2 separate regions of the Homo sapiens genome follow, and region 2 is linked to region 1. Evidence: fine-mapped expression QTL. Tissue or cell type: whole blood. Region 1 holds a variant in brackets; the other region holds the start of a gene. All regions are shown on one strand. Distances are between the middles of the regions.

The links. PIP is the estimated chance that this variant, and not a neighbour inherited with it, causes the effect.
Region 2: it holds the start of THNSL1, and the variant in region 1 is fine-mapped to the expression of THNSL1 in whole blood (TOPMed, PIP above 0.99).

The regions. Positions count from the first base shown.
Region 1 is chr10:24,951,336-24,959,441 of GRCh38, reverse strand. It overlaps PRTFDC1 (phosphoribosyl transferase domain containing 1), which reads left to right and starts at 6,836. Exons shown (of 9, transcript NM_020200.7): 1 at 6,836-6,914. The coding sequence starts at 6,867. It also overlaps a transcript of THNSL1 not described here. RefSeq lists a silencer at 6,486-6,675. The variant A/G (reference allele first, on the strand shown) is at 3,163.
Region 2 is chr10:25,012,480-25,020,585 of GRCh38, reverse strand. It overlaps THNSL1 (threonine synthase like 1), which reads right to left and starts at 3,974. Exons shown (of 3, transcript NM_024838.5): 1 at 3,894-3,974. It overlaps ENKUR (enkurin, TRPC channel interacting protein), which reads left to right and starts at 4,428. Exons shown (of 6, transcript NM_145010.4): 1 at 4,428-4,726. The coding sequence starts at 4,650. RefSeq lists enhancers at 3,253-3,332, 3,932-4,226, 3,537-4,299 and silencers at 3,583-3,662, 3,843-4,042, 4,373-4,422.

The DNA of each region.
Region 1 (8,106 bases):
CTTTCTCCATCTCTCCCACTCTCAAGCCACATCTCTCAACCTCTTTCCCAAGCTCCTCTCACCTTAACTCTAAGATGCAACCCATAACCTGGCAATCACTGGATCATGTCTTGGGATATTGCCAGTGGCTGTTATACATCAGCTCTGATCTGAAGAGAATCCATGTACAGCTAAGAGAATAAACAGCTCCATTCCCATTCTAGCTGATCGTCTCCCCAGGACACCAGGCAAAGTTGCTGCTGACTAAGGAGGCCCCCCTTTTTTTGTTTTTGTTTTTGAAGTGGACATCTTTCCTTTAGAAACTCAGCACTGGCTGAGGCACCAATTAATTTTGCATAAGCTGCTACAGGACCCTCAGATGCTAATCAGTTTGTTCATAACCACAGAGTATTGTTTTAGGGTCATGTACGTAACTTCTGCCTCCAGCCCTGTGGATTTATTTACTGCTTAGTCCCTAGTTCCTGCAGCTGTGTCCTTTCAATGACTGCTTTATGGTGGCCAAGAGAGTTGAGGTCGACTGCCAGGACTCAGAGATCTGGAGGAACACATGGACACATTATTCTTTTGCTCTGAAGCTATCCAATTCCTGTTCCGGTCAGAAGGGGAGATAGTGGGAGGATATCTCTGAAACTGCCCAGCGCTTACTGCTGATATTCCTCAGGTCTGACATTATTGCAAGAGAACAAACTTAGATCTACCCTCTGTGTGTTCTTCAGTGGAAGGTGAATTACTAACGAAAGTGTAATAATACAAAACACAATTGAGTGTAGCCTTGGCTTTATTTGTAAGACCTACTCTGGAGATATTATTTTCTTTACTCCAAGACTACACATTGGATCCAGTCTGCTTCAAACAAGAGACCGGGAAAGACGGGTTACTATGCTAATTGAATACTAATGAGGCCTTTGCTTAAGTTGGGTTTTGTTGCAATTATTTGCCACTACATTTCTTTTGTATTTATGTAGAGGGAAAAATAAACTACTTCAAAGTTAGCAAGAGTCTTACTTAGCCTGAGCACTTGCAGAAAAAATGTCTTGCTACTCTTTCTTTTGTACTTGTAACATTTGTAAAGAGTTTTGTTCGGCACTATGGAAAAGCAAAATATCATCATCATTATTACTGGCCTTTGTCCACAGTGGATTTCATCCAGATTCTAACCAGTGACTCTGTGACTAACAATCTGAGTCACTAAGTTTCAGATGTTTATGGATTTCAACACAATTCCCAGACTGAAAGGTTTTTTTTTTTAATTTACTTTCATGTTTCAAGACTCAGAAAGAATTAACTGCCTTTCTGTATTTCCAGTCTAGTGCAGAAAGAATTAAATGCCTTTCTGTATTTCCAATCTAGTGTCACTGAGTGACGGGCTAGGAACAATTCAGTGGATAGACTGAACTGTTCCTTCAATTACAGATTTGTATTGACAAAAGTCAATTACCAAAATGTCAAAAAAAAATTAGTATATACTTCCAGGACAAAAGCCTCCAGGCTGGCAGAGAATTCAGTGAATTATAAATATTTGTGTTTTCACCATGGTAGTGGCACAGGATGATTACAGAATTTAAAATGCAGAGAATCACGGTGATGGGAAAACTGAATATCCACATGTGGAAGAATGAAACTAGACCCCTCTTTCTCACCATATACAAAAATCAACTCAAGGCCGGATGCAGTGGCTCATGCCTGTAATCCCAGAACTTTGGCAGGCCGAGGCAGGCAGATCACTTGAGGTCAGGAGTTTGAGACCAGCCTGGCCAATGTGGTGAAACCCCATCTCTACTAAAAGCACAAAAATTAGCCGGGCGTGGTGGTGGGCGCCTGTAATCCCAGCTACTTGGGAGGCTGAGGCAGGACAATCACCTGAATCTGAGATGCGGAGGTTGCAGTGAGCCGAGATAAAACCACTGCACTCCAGCCTGGGCAACAGAGCAAGACTCCGTCTCAAAACAAACAAACAAACAAACAAACAAACAAACATCAACTCAAAATAAAGACTGCCATGTAAAACCTGAGATGATGAAACTGCTAGAAAAAAAACATAGTGGAAACACTTCATGACATTGGTCCAGGCAAGGATTTTTTGGATAAGACCTCAACAAAAAGAATGAAATCCTGTCATTTGCAACAACATGGATGAACCTGGAGGACATTATGTTAAGCAAGAAAAGCCAGAAACAAAAGGCAAATACGACATGATCTCACTTATATGTGGAATTTTAAAAAGTTGATCACATAGAAGTAGAGACTAGAATACTGGTTAGCAGAGTCAGGTGAAAGGTGGGGAGGAGTGGCAGGAGTAGGAGAAGTTGGTTAGTAGGTACTAGGTTATAGTTAGATGAGAGGAATAAGTTCTGGTACACTAACGCAGTAGTCTCAACCTTTTTGGCACCAAAGACCTGTTTTGTGCAAGACAATTTTTCCACGGATTTTGAGGGGGGATGGTTTCAGGATGAAACTGTTCCATCTCAGATCATCCGGCATTAGTTAGGTTCACAGAAGGAGCATGCAACCTAGATCCCTCCCATGTGCGGTTCACCATAGGGTTTGTGCTCCTGTGAGAATCGAATGCGGCTGCTGATCTGACAGGGGCAGAGCTCAGGTGGGAATGCTCGCTGACACTCACCTCCTACAGTGCAGCTCAGTTCCTAACAGGCCACAGGCTGGTACCAGTTTGCAGCCCGGTAGTTGGGGACACCTGCTGTATGGCACAGCAGAATGATATATTTAACAATAATGTGTTGTATATTTCAAATCAGCTAGAAGAGACAATTTTGAATGTTCTCACCACAAAGAAAAGAAAAATGCTTGAGATGATGAGTATGCTAATTACCCTGAGTTGATCATTATGCAATGTATACATGTAGTGGAATATCACACTGTACCCCATAGATAATATGTATAACTATTATGTGTCAGTTAAAAATAAAACTAAAAAAAAAAGTAAGTAAACACAATATAAACACCAAAAAAAAAAAATAAATAAAATGCAGAGAAACTACTGCTAAAATGTAATAAAGAGAATGATAGAAAAATACAAGTATATTGACTGGTTATTAACTTTGCAAAGATGCACATCTTTATTCTTATAGCTCTTTCAAAGGTATATTAGAAAATGGACAGTCTGACCAGGGCCTACTTGAGGGTGGAGGGCGGGAGGAGGGT[A/G]AGGATCAAAAAACTATGTATCAGGTGCTATGGTTATTACCTGGGTGATGAAATAATCTGTACACCTAACCCCTGCGACATGCAATTTTCCCAAACAAACCTGCGTGTGTACCCCCAAACCTCAAATAAAAGTTGGAAAGGAAAAAAAAAGAAAAGGAAATGGACAGTCTGAGCTAAAATATCCCTTTTTATGAAAAATCTCATTATTTTAATAATTTTATCATTTTTCTGTATTCATTCTCATACCAGCTCTAGACTATCCCTGGACTATAACTATCCCTGATTGGTCACCTTACGTCAATCTTTTATTATTATTATTATTATTTGTTTGTAGGGACAGGGTCTTGCTCTGTCACCCAGGCTGGAGTGCAGTGGTGCAATTATGACTCAATGCAGCCTCAAACTTCTGGCCTCAAGCAATCTTTCCAGCTCAGCCTCCCCAGTAGCTAGGTCTACAGGTGCCACGCTACCACACCTGGCTAAGTTTTTAATTTTTTATAGTGATGTGGTCTTACAATGTTACCCAGGTTTGGTCTTGAATTCCTGGCCTCAAGTGAGCCTCCTGCTTTGGCCTCCCGAAGTGCTGGTATTACAGGTGTGAGCCATGGTGCCTAGCCCCATCAACCTTAAAAGACAATTCCTTGTCATTTTCACATGGAATAATTTTACAAACATTTGGTCATACATTTTTACAGCATGTCAGGTTAATAATATCTTACAGTTTTATAGCATTTTGCAAAGAATTCTCTTGCATGTTATCTCACATTCATCTCATCATCATATGCAGTAGAGAATAAATGGGTGGCTCCATTTTATGGATGAGAAAATTGATGTATATTACACTGATATAATTGGCTTAGACTCATTGGCTAAAGTAACATGGATTGTTACAGAAAAATAGAGGTCCTAGTCCAAAGCTATTCCACTAGACATGTGATATGGTTTGGCTCTGTGTCCCCACCCAAATCTCATGTTGAATTGTAATTCCCAGTGTTGGGGGAGGGATCTGGTGGGAGGTGATTGGCTCATGGGGGTGGATTTCTCCCATATTGTTCTCGTTATAGTGAGTGAGTTCTCACAAGATCTGATGGTTTAAAAGTATGTGGCACTACACCCTTGCTCTCTCTCTCTCCTGCTCTGCCATGGTAAGACGTGCTTGCTTCCCCTTTGCCTTCTGCCATGATTGTAAATTTCCTGAGGCCTCCCAGCCTTGCTTTCTGTACAGCCTGCAGAACTGTGAGTCAATTAAACCTCTTTTCTTCATAAATTATCCAGGTCTAAGGTAGTTCTTTATACCAATATGAGAACAGACTAATACAACATGTAACAGAAATTTGAGGTTTAAAAAGAATTTTTGCCTCTAAATCCTCATAATGCAAGATTAAGAATAAAGCCTTGGACAGATGAGCTGTTATTTCTGGATACCGGTCTTTGCAAATACTATTTGGGTTATCAAGTATTATTTTGTATTATGTTAATGCTCTCCAAAGTATCGAAGTGTAATCAGACCGCACAAAGTATTATCAAAATATACAAAGATAATAAAATGAATTAGATTTTTAAAAACTATTTACTCATCATTCTGTGCCCTTTATAGGATGACCTATATAAGTCTATGTAGGATGTTCTTGAGCACACATTCATAAGATTCCTGTTGTCTTTCAAGCAAGTTACATTTTTCACTGTGAACTTGTTGGATTTTACGTTTAAACTAATAGCCTTTCTAAGGGAAGAAGATTTATCTACCATTTCCCTTACATCTTCCGCAGTGTCTAGGCTGGAACCAAAGTTGATGCTTTTTGACTTCTGTATGGCAACTACTCCTGTGACATATTTTGAAGTTCCTGGTACCCCCCAATCTGGCCCTGCACCCACACTGAGCCTCATGGCTAAGTTTTGATATCCAAGCAGTAAGATGGTCTAGTGGAATCCCCTAAAGCATGGGTCATGAGCCACCCACATCACACCCATCTGGTGTCTCTCAGCAGGTACAGGATTCTAGGTGCTTCCACAGATCTTCCCCACCCAGTGAAGCTGCATTAACCAGCTCCCCAGGAGAGTCTTGTGAACTCTAAAGTTTGATCATCATCCTAATGATAGCACTTTTCTGCTCCTGGAAATTTTAATGATGTTGCTTGTGAATATGGTTCCTGGGCCTGGTCTTTGAAAATGAAAATAAAAGATGGTGCTTGACTTTGGGGAAAAGAAGTGAGATGCAGACTACAAAAATGGCTCAAAACAACGCCCTCTCACAATTACTAGGAGAAAATGTTTACCCGTGTGCTGAGAAACAACACCCCCCATTTCTGTAAGGCAGTTGCCAAGCAGATGCCTGATTTCAGGGATCTCTGGAGCTGCACCCTCCAAGGCGCTGGCGCTTAGAAACGACATGAAGAGCCAGCCCTGCTGAGCAGGACCAGGGCGCCAAGTCTGAATGACTAATATTTTTCCAACCTAGAACGTCATTAACCGATTGATAACTATTTCCCCTTTAAACTAGGCAAAATCAGCATTCCTCTCCCCTCTGTGTGCCAGAATTCGAAGATGAACAAAAGACGCCTGCATCAGGAAAACTGTGTTAAGTTCTCTTGGATTCAGGGCTTCGACCCGAATTGGGCTGAGTGAATGAAGACGCTGGTGAGATGTCAGGGACCTGGGGAATGAAGACACACCCAGAAAAAGCAGGAACCTACAGGAGTGGACAAAGAACCGGAGCATAGGCATGTGAGAGGGGTTGAAATGAACAACAGACTCATACAAGAAGGATTTCTAATCAGAAAAGAGCGATTGCTTTAGTAAAGCTGCAACCTGGAACAATTACAATCTGACCAGATGTTCTTGCAAAACTGGTAAAGCAGAGAATGTGTAAAAATCTCTCCCCCTCCTCCCCTGAATGCAGTTGACGAAAGGCCGAAAGGCTGGATCCTCAAAGCCCAGATCTGATCACTGCAGATCCGGGCCACCCTAAAAGCAATCGGGTGTAATCTTTCCAGCTCCAGGCCCTGGGATGAGGGAGGTGGGGGAAGGTGGAGAAAGGTGGAGGAAGATGGAGGGAGGTGAGGGGAGGTGGAGGGAGGTGAGGGGAGGTGGAGGGAGATGAGCGGAGGTGGAGAGAGGTGGGTGGCGGCTCCAAGGTTTGAAAACACATCCAGGACACTTCCCATCCTCCAAGAGCACGCTGGCTCACAGGCTCTTTCACGCTTCTGCTTGGGACAATCGCGTGCATGAAATCTGGCAGGGAGGAGTCAAGGAGATTGTTAGCCCGAGGGCTGGGACGGTGGATCTGGGAATCAGGGGCCTGGGGGACACGTTCTCTTCCTGCCGCGGGCTTCCTGCTCCAGAGTCCCCGCGGGGCTTGGCGGCGGGGCCGGGGGCTGCACGCGACCATCCGGCAGGGGGCGGCGGCGACAGCGGCGGCCGCAAGGGACGCGTCCGGGGCCCGCGCTCAGGGGGAGCGGTAGCGGCTTGGCAGCTGCTCCCCGCGCCCCCGCGGCCTAGCCAGGGGAGGGGGCGCAGCGCCGGGGCCATGGATCCGCGTCAGGCCGCTGCTTCCCGCCGGCGGGCCCGGGGCGGGGCGGACCCGTCCCCGTCCCCGTCCCCGTCCCCGTCCCCGTCCCCATCCCCACGTCCCATCCCCCACGCAGCCTTCGCCCTCCCTGCTCCTTCCCGCGCCGTCTTCCCTTCCCGCGTTCCCCGGGAGAAACATGGCCGGGAGCAGCGAGGAGGCGCCAGACTACGGGCGAGGCGTCGTGGTAAATGCAAACTCCCTATTTTGGGGCTCGGCCCGCTCCCCTCCCTCCCTGGCACCCTGCTTGTAGATTAAATGCTTGCCGTGCGTCGGGGGAGAGAGAGGGCCACCGCTTTGTTCTCCCTCCCGGCGGGGATCGCTTCCATCCTCGGACCCGGGCCTCCTCTCCCCGCCCCCAATCTGACGAAACTCTGAGTCCCGTCCCTTCACCCCGAGTTCCCAGCGTCCCCCCGTGTCCTCCGGCCGGTAGCTCGCTCCTGCAGCGTCCCGCCGGCGCCCAGCCGTCCCCATCCCCGCGAGCCACGGGGAGTCGCTTCTGCGAGCCCGGCAGGGCCCCAGAGACCCCCGCGTGCTGCTCTGGAGGCCTCCTTCTTCCTGGGTCTCCTCTTGACTCCTCCAGGGCGGGCTTCAAGTTTTGTTTTTAAAAAGCACACTGAGGGGTTTTGAAGGCAGCTAGGAAATAAAGTAGCTCAAGTGGACAGAGCTTGAGATTTGAAGCCTTTGGTACCCAGGTTGGGGGCTCTCTGGCAGTGGAGGCCTCTGCAGGAGCTCTAGGACACGCTGGCGGCTCCTGAGTGACCTATGGCTTGTCTGTAAAAGGGAGCAACAGCAAGCTGGGCTCTGGAGCCAATTGGGAGGATGCATGTAAAATATCTAGCAGTGTGTCCGGATGGGAGGGTGTGGGGTGCTGGTTTCCCAGAACTGAGCCTCATTAACCCTGAGAATCCTGACGGTGTCAGCCAGAGGGTACCCATCTCTCAGTGTGCTAGGATCCAACCCGTTCTTGACCTTGTGGCCACGTCCTCCCTGCTCCCTGAGAAGTGGTTTTCCTAGAAGGTGGTGGTTATAACTTGTGTCAGGTTCAGTGTGAAACTCAATGGTGGTGAGGATGGTGGGTGGGGCTAACTTGCCATCTCTTTCCAGGGATCAGCTTGTCATTCACAGATAATCTGTTTATGAATATGAATGGCCTGAACTAAAGTAAGTGGGCTGGGGAGGGAAACGTGTCACATTCAGACAGAAGGGTCAGGTTGAAATGTGGGGCTCAGTGCTTAATTTAACAGCAGGACCTTTCCTTCTGAAAGGATGAGGAGTTGATTTATTCATTCCACACGTTTATTGTCCTGCTGGGTTGTAGGAGGTGCTGTAGGCTCTGGGGTGCAAAAGACAAAGGCCTTGTCTTCATGAGCTTGCGT
Region 2 (8,106 bases), 61 kb before region 1:
CATGTTGCCCAGACTGATCTCGAACTCCTGAACTCAAGCAATCCTCCCACTTTGGCCTCCCAAAGTGCTGGGATTAGAGGCATGAACCACCATACTGGCCCAGTAAATCTTTCATCTTTTCTTCCGCTTTATATTGCTTGCTACCATGCTTAACATCAACTTCATTAAAAGTAGATTGTAAGGAAACATTATGTTACCTTCACCTTATGTTTTGCAATCTTACTTTTCCTATATGTTAGTTCCCCTCTACCCTCTTGTTTTTAAATTTTACTTCACTTCCCTTTTTCAAGACTTTGGGGTAGATATATATAGATATAGATATAGATATAGATATAGATATAGATATATTTTAAAGAAAATTATGACAGTTCAATTTGTAAATTCTGTATCAATATTATTTCCCACAAACATGTTCCTTAGACTAGCAGAAGGCAGTTAAGTGCTATAATATATATTATTTCTAAAGAACAATAAAGATATATTCTATTTTAAGCTACATACTAAATTTTATTTTGTAACATTTAACCACAAATTGATTTTAGGGGCTCAACATTTTTTAACCAACCAAATGAGGAAAAGACATCCTCATTTCTTTTTTGAGAACGTCTGCTGCAATGGCCACTCGGGAATATACATAGAAGGCATATATATGGACTTCACCAAAGCATTACACATGGTTCATTTAAAATTTTTTTAATTCACGGAGAAATGGAAAAAAAAGATTTGAGGATATTGTTGAATGATCATAAAAATGGTTCTGTTGAATAGAGGGAAATTTCTGGTAGTGCACTCCAAGGCTTTTGGTCTTGACACTCTTCTCTTTCATGTGTTTAACAATTATTTGGATTAAGCATTGAGAGGGATATTGGATAATTAGCAGTTAATAGGACTGACTTTAGAGTGAGAAAAATCTGCAGATGTGCAAGTCCTTTATATAAAATGGTGTAGTATTTGCATATAACCTGTGCACATCCTCCTGTATACCTTAATCTCTGAATAACTTATAATACATAATACAATGCAAATGCTAGGTACAGAGCTGTTGTACTAATTTGCTTTTTTGTTTGTGGTATTTTTACTGTTCCATTATTTTCGTGTTTTTGTTTGTTTTTCAGACAGGCTCCCACTCTGTTGCCCAGGCAGGAGTGCAGTGGCACAATCTTGGCTCACTACAGCCTTGACTTCCTAGGCTCAAGCAATCCTCCCACCTCAGCCTCCCAAGTAGCTGGGACTAAAGGCACGCACCACCACACCCAGCTAATTTTAGTATTTTTAGTAGAGAGGGGGTTTCGCCATGTTGCCCAGGCTGGTCTCCAACTCCTGGGCTCAAGCAGTCTTCCTGCCTTGGCCTTCAAAAAGTGCTTGGATTGCAGGTATGAGCCACTGTGCCCAACTAAAATTTTAAAATATTTTCAATCTGTAATTAGTTGAATCTGAGAATGGGAAATTCACAGATATGGAGAACTAACTGTGTATCAGGACACAAACTAGCCAAAAGGAGGTTAAGCTCTACTGCTTCTGACTTCTGACCAAAAATTCTCTCAAACTTTTCATTCAGAGGGCCTCCCACTTGCCATGAAACAGAGGTGAGGGTGGAAGGACCACACAATCCAGTATAGTTCTGTAATCACAAGGATCTCACAACTAAAACAATTTTGCAAGTTCATCACTTAGTCTTTATATTACTATCAAAGCTGACTAAGCTTTTTCTGCCGTTAGACTTCTGCTGTTAGACATATTCTTAACGATCTCGAATATTTAATTGAAAACTTTAGTATCCACAATTCTATAACTTTGAGAATTATAAAGAACCTGTCTTTATAAAGGGTTTATTTACCTTCCAATTGTCTTATATACTCATCTACACCCATTTTATTCATTTAAATAGATTAAAATAATCCTTCGCAAAAAAAAAAAAAAAAAAAACAACTCTCATTTGTTTATGTACATCACAGGCATACCATTATATACGGGGATCTAGGATCTGTGCAAACTACAATCCACAGGCTAAATCTGGCCCACCATCATTTTCATAAATCAAGTTTCTTTGAAGCACAACTTCAGTCATTCATGTGCTCACATATTTGTTCAGTACCGTCTTTGGCTGCTTTTGAGCTACAATGGCAAAACTGAGTAGTTGCAACATAACCACTTGGCCTAAAAAGGCCTGAAATATTTACTGTCTACCCCTTTATAGACAGTTTGTTCATCCCTGTAGGTATATACCAGTTAATTCCCTGTGGACATGCGGTGGACACAGGCATTTTTTTGAAGTGTCATTTCAAGAGCATTATAAAAACTAGAAATAATTTTGCTTAAACACACTTTCAAAAGGCAAGGAGAATTGCAGATCAAATGTCTAAGAAAAAAGAAAAGTTTTTTTCCAAATGATTTAACAACCTGCTCATGGCTGTAAACTAACTATACCACAGTGAGGTCTTGCACAAATTGTTTAGCATTTTTTAAAGCATAATAAATATACAGACATCAGTGAAATTATTTTATTTCAGTAACCCCAGAACATCAAGGCTACCAAAGGCCAGTTGGTGCTAACTGCAGAAATCATGTTTTGCCCTTACTTGCTATTTCAGGAACTGATTAACACAAATAGTCTCAAGGTGTTCCTTCTAATTAGAAAATTCATAAGCTTTAGCCAGTGACTATCCACTTGGCTAATGGCGTTATCATTCCATGAGTCCTTGGTTCGAATCTTCGTACATACAGGAGGTTTCCCGCCAAATTTTTTCTCTATACTTGCTAAACAGAAATCCCAAACATAAAATACTCAAGGGCGAAAAGAAAGGGGCAAAGTGATATAGATTTGGATCTAGATCTAAATATAGATCTACAGATCCATCTATCTAAAATGTTTTGGAAGACAATCTGATGTGAAGAAATCTGGAGAATTTTCCCTAAGCGTCTGGGACAAAAATTAAAATCAACTGTATACAAAAAAAAAAAAAAGAAAAACTTAACGTATTCTTATGTAGTGAAATTCAGTAAGAGCCCAAAGTAAGGACCTACACATTCAGTAAAGCCTTTTTATACAGGAACTAAAAGGTTCACCAGGCCATTGTGTTGTTTTAATCACTCCGCCAGCCAACCAGGCAGTGAGAAACCCAGACTCAAGTGTGTTTTCTCTCCTCTCCGGGAAGCTTTATTTCCTTCGGGCAGAGTGGCCTCTGTACCGGTGGTTCAGAGGCATCCATCTTCCTCCCCAAATCCTATTACCAAAATGTCTTTTAAACACTCGGGTAAAAGCGTCTAAATGACTTTCCTACGGCAGGCCCATGTGCATAGATTTACGGGTGACCAGGTGGAACAAAAAGGAATAAAACCGCTTCTCAGAAGACAATTTTCCAACAAGGGACACCAAAAACTGGACAAAAACGTAAAGGCCCACTTAAAAGGCTTCTCCTCTTAGTTTAGGCTGCTCATTTACAAAGAGCAGGTCCACTGGTTCCTGGAGAACGACCTAGAGGAAGAGTCCCGACCCGGGGAAGAGCAGGCGCAGAGCCGACCCGGAGGACCGCCCAAGGGGCGGTCCCGGGAGCAGGGGCGGGAGGGCGAGCGCAGCAGGCGGAGGAGGCCGCGGGCCCCGTGCGCGCACTCACACACGTGGCGGGCAGGGCTGCGCGGCGTTCCGAGGAGCCTCGACCAGAAGCAGCAGGAAAAATGCGCGCAGAGTTGAGATGACCAGCGAGTAGCGGAAAGGGGAAGGGACGGTACGGGGAAAGGCATGCGATGGGAGCGGGCTGGCTTCTAGTTTTCCTTCCTTTCTCCTCCAATAACTCACCAAGGAAATCTCACTGAGAAGACGGGGGAAATGAAAGGAAATGGGGGAGCAGTGTCCACGAGCCGCTAAAGCCTCCACAGGAGACGGAGCACCGTACCTGCAGCTAGCTCCCCGGTCCCGCCCCCGCGCAGTGGACTCTGCGCCTGTGCCTGCGGCGGCCAGCGTGCCTCCGCTCCACGCCCTTCCCCGAGCGGCCTCGCGCAGGGCACGTGACTCTCCTTTCTCACTGTAGCCTATCCGAGCACTCCGATCTCCTCAGGCTCCTCCCCTCCCTCGTCTCCCTGGCGGCGCTGGCCTTGCGTCCTCGTGGTCTCAGCCGCTCGCTCCGCCCACACCGCGATTGGGGCCTGCTCACAAAAACCTTATTGGGTGACGCCTGCGCACCAGCTGCGCTTTGCCGTCTCTACTAGGATTTTTCTTTTTTCCCCAGATACACAGAAATAGAAAAGAGCACAGTTTTTAAGGGGACATCATTTTCACCCCGTTAACTTTCAAAGGCACGTAAAAACAGTGGCTTCCAAATGAGCTTCTCTAGCAGAAGGCGCTGCAGAAAGAGGGAAGAGGGGAGACCTAGTTTGCGGTGCTGCCTGCCACTTCCTCGTTGCCTAGTAACGGTTTCCACGGCAACCGCACAGTCAACGACGCTTAGCAATCCGGAGAGAAATAGGGTGTTTTCTTCCCGAGAGAGGACTGCTAAGAGGGGGTTAAAGGGGGACGATGTGAAGGAGAGAACCTGTGGTCCTTCAGAAGGCGAAGAAGAAAGAAAGGGGAAGCAGTGAAGAAAGGGACGGAGATACTGGGACAGGGAGAAAAAAGTTGTGGAGAGTAGCTTTTAAGGAGTCATTTGGTGGCCATGGATCCAACGTGCTCTTCTGAGTGCATTTATAACCTCATACCCAGTGACTTGAAGGAGCCTCCCCAGCCTCCTAGGTATGTGGATAAGCAAAGACTATCACTTGAAACAAGAATGGGGAATACTCAGTATTAATTAAGCATACATATACTGGAATTTTTAATAATAAATAAAATGTATTTTTGCCTCGATGAAGTAGCCTTGGAGGATAACTTGTTAGAGAAAAGGTCGAAATATCTAGGTATTCAGCATCTCACAGTTTTACAGAGAGGGCAGTCTGGCGCTGTGAGATGACCATTTTATTATATTACACTTAACCTCTTATTAATACGGTATGTGATTATTGTGTAATTTAATTATATGTGATATACAGCATAGTATGAAGTTTCATGTTGAAAAGAAAAAAATCACAATTCTATTATCTTGTTTAAGGATACTTGATGTTTGGTTTCAGGAGTTCGGTGTTGTATTTCTAACTGCACTACTCCCTCTCTAATGGGATAGGATAGGACTTTTCCCCCAAGATTTTTATGAAATATAAATTTACATTTGCTTTTGAGCCTCAGGTTTTTGATCAGTGAAACGAAATATCTACCACTATTAGGCAGTTTCTAAGGACTTTTTCAGATCTAATGGTTTAAATGGAAGGAAGAATTGGTGGATAGATAATGAACCAAAAAATATGTAATTGAGTTGAAATTTTACATAGGTCTTAGAACCTCTTAAATTCTCCAAATCTCAAAAACGTGCAAAGGAAGCACTTCAGTTACTCCCATCTGTAGGGACTTCTTAGAACTTACTTAAATCTGTGGGGAGCAAAGAAAGTAGTGGAGAAAATCTCATTTCTCCTAGGACTTGAAATGTTTCCTGTCTTTTACCATCATCCTTGTCCGTATGCAAGTCAAAACCACATTTGAAAAGGACTGGACTAAAAATCGGGCCTAGCAATTAATTGTCTTTGTGAACTTTAGAATAAAGTTTCATTTGTTTACTGATCTGTGAGATAAATGTACCAGATAATATCCAAGGCCCCTTTTAGATCTAATGGTCAATTATTTTTACTAGTATTAGGGTAATAGCTTCAACAAGTAGGCAGCTTCTTCAATTTTAAGTATCTGGTTTAAATTAGAGCAGTAACTGTATTACATCTCCATTAGCATATCAACATCTAGAGACTGGAAAGAGGAATGTAAAGTAAGTTATGGCACAGTTGCAGAATTTATTTTCAAATTTTCTATTGTTGCACCAACTTTTGGTTTCAAATTCCTGCATATTACATGAGATAAAACTCCTCTATAACAGATTGGTAGATTGTATTTCTATAGAATATTGAATTTGAGAGTTATTTTATTAGGTAGGTATTCTGTTCTTTGGCAAATTAAAAAGCTTTACTGCATCTAGACGATTTTTTTTTTCAAAAAAAATTTATAGGAACAGTCTTTATTCATTTGGCAAGCATTAATGGAGCCCCTATTATGTGTATAATATTGCACTAGTATATCTGTTCTTGGTGCTGTTGGAGTGATAGCACAGACTTCTTGGTTTTACTATGAAGAAATGAGTAGAAGAAAGATTTATGATTAGAGGAAATAGAGGCACCCAAATGTGATGCCAAAAGAATCATTTCTGTTAGGTTAAAGTCAATTTACACTGGCAAGATTCTGACAACTGCCTGGCTTTTGATCTCCCACGCCTCAGAGTTTACCGTCTTTTTGGGGAACTGAAATATGAACACTAAAATTTATCATTGAAAACCATAATGAGAGATGAAGATACTAAATGAGAACTTAGAAGATGAATGTATGTGACCAAAATCGGATGAAAGGCACTTTTCTGCAGTTGAACTATTGGCTGAGACTTAAGTTATGAAAGCCTCAGAGTCAATGGGAAGTCATGATTCAGTTTTCAAAATTTGAGTTACTCATGATGCATAAGATGGTTTCCAAGATTTTCACCAAATCTGTCACCCTTTTTTTTTTAATTACTTTTTTTTCAAGACGGAGTTTCACTCTTTTTGCCCAGGCTGGAGTGCAATGGCGCCATCTTGGCTCACTGCAGCTTCTGCCTCCTGGGTTCAAGCGATTCTCCTGCCTCAGCCTCCCGAGTAGCTGGGATTACAGGTCCCTGCTACCATGCCTGGCTAATTTTGTATTTTTAGTAGGGATGGGGTTTCACCATGGTGGCCAGGCTGGTCTTGACCTCCTGACCTCCAGTAATCCACCCACCTCTGCCTCCCAAAGTGCTATGATTATAGGCGTGAGCCACCACGCCTGGCCTATCACCCTTTATTGATGTCTGCAGTTATTGAATATCTCCAGTCATCCCCTCTTTCCATTTTGTTTAAAGCAATATTCCAGTTATGGTCTGAACAGTCCATGAAACCATTATCTCCTTTCCATAATTCTTGGCACAATATTTTCATCCATTCAGCCTAAGCTTCCATAAGCATTTTGACAGTCATGTCCAACTATTGGCTCACACTAAAATACCCTGTATGGATTTTGACTAAGGTTGGTCTCTCCCATCCTCTAATTATGTAGCTGATTCTTTTTTATCTCAACTCATTAATCTATGGAGATAGTTTTGCATTTGAATCTTTTATACATTCTGTTAACCATTCTTTTTGTGTCATTTGCAAATTTAATAAATATGTCTTTTATATCTCTTATCTATCATAGAACATAGTATATTAGTCTGTTCTCACGCTGCTAATAAAGACATACTCGAGACTGGGTAATTTATATTTCAAAAGAAGTTTAATTGACTCACAGTTTCACATGGCTGAGGAAGCCTTACAATCATGGCAGAAGGCAAAGGCGGAGCAAAGTCACATCTTACATGGTGGCAGGAAAGAGAGTGTGTGCAGGGGAACTCCCCTTTATAAAACCATCAGATCTCATGAGACTTATTCACTATCATGAGAGCAGCACAGGAAAGACCCACTCCCATGATTCAATTACCTATCACCAGATCCCTCCCATGACATATGGGAATTATGGGATCTCATCAATTTAATGTGAGATTTGCGTGGGGATGCAGCCAAACCATATCATTCTACCCCAGCCCCTCCCAGATCTCATGTCCTCACATTTCAAAACCAATCATACCTTCCCAACAGTCCCCCAAAGTCTTAACTCATTTCAGCATTAACTCAGAAGTCCACAGTTCAAAGTCTCATTTGAGACCAGGCAAGTCCCTTCTGCCTACAAGCATATAAAATCAAAAGCAAGTTAGGTACTTCCCAGATACAATGGGGGTCCAGGCATTGGGTAAATATAACCATTCGAAATAGCAGAAATTGGCCAAAACAAAGGGGCTATAGGCCCCTTGCAAGTCCAGATTCTAATAGGGCAGTCATTAAACCTTAAAGTTCCAAAATGATCTCCTTTGACTCCATGTCTCACATCCAGGTCACGCTGATGCAAGAGGTGGGATCCTATGGTCTTGGGCAGCTCTG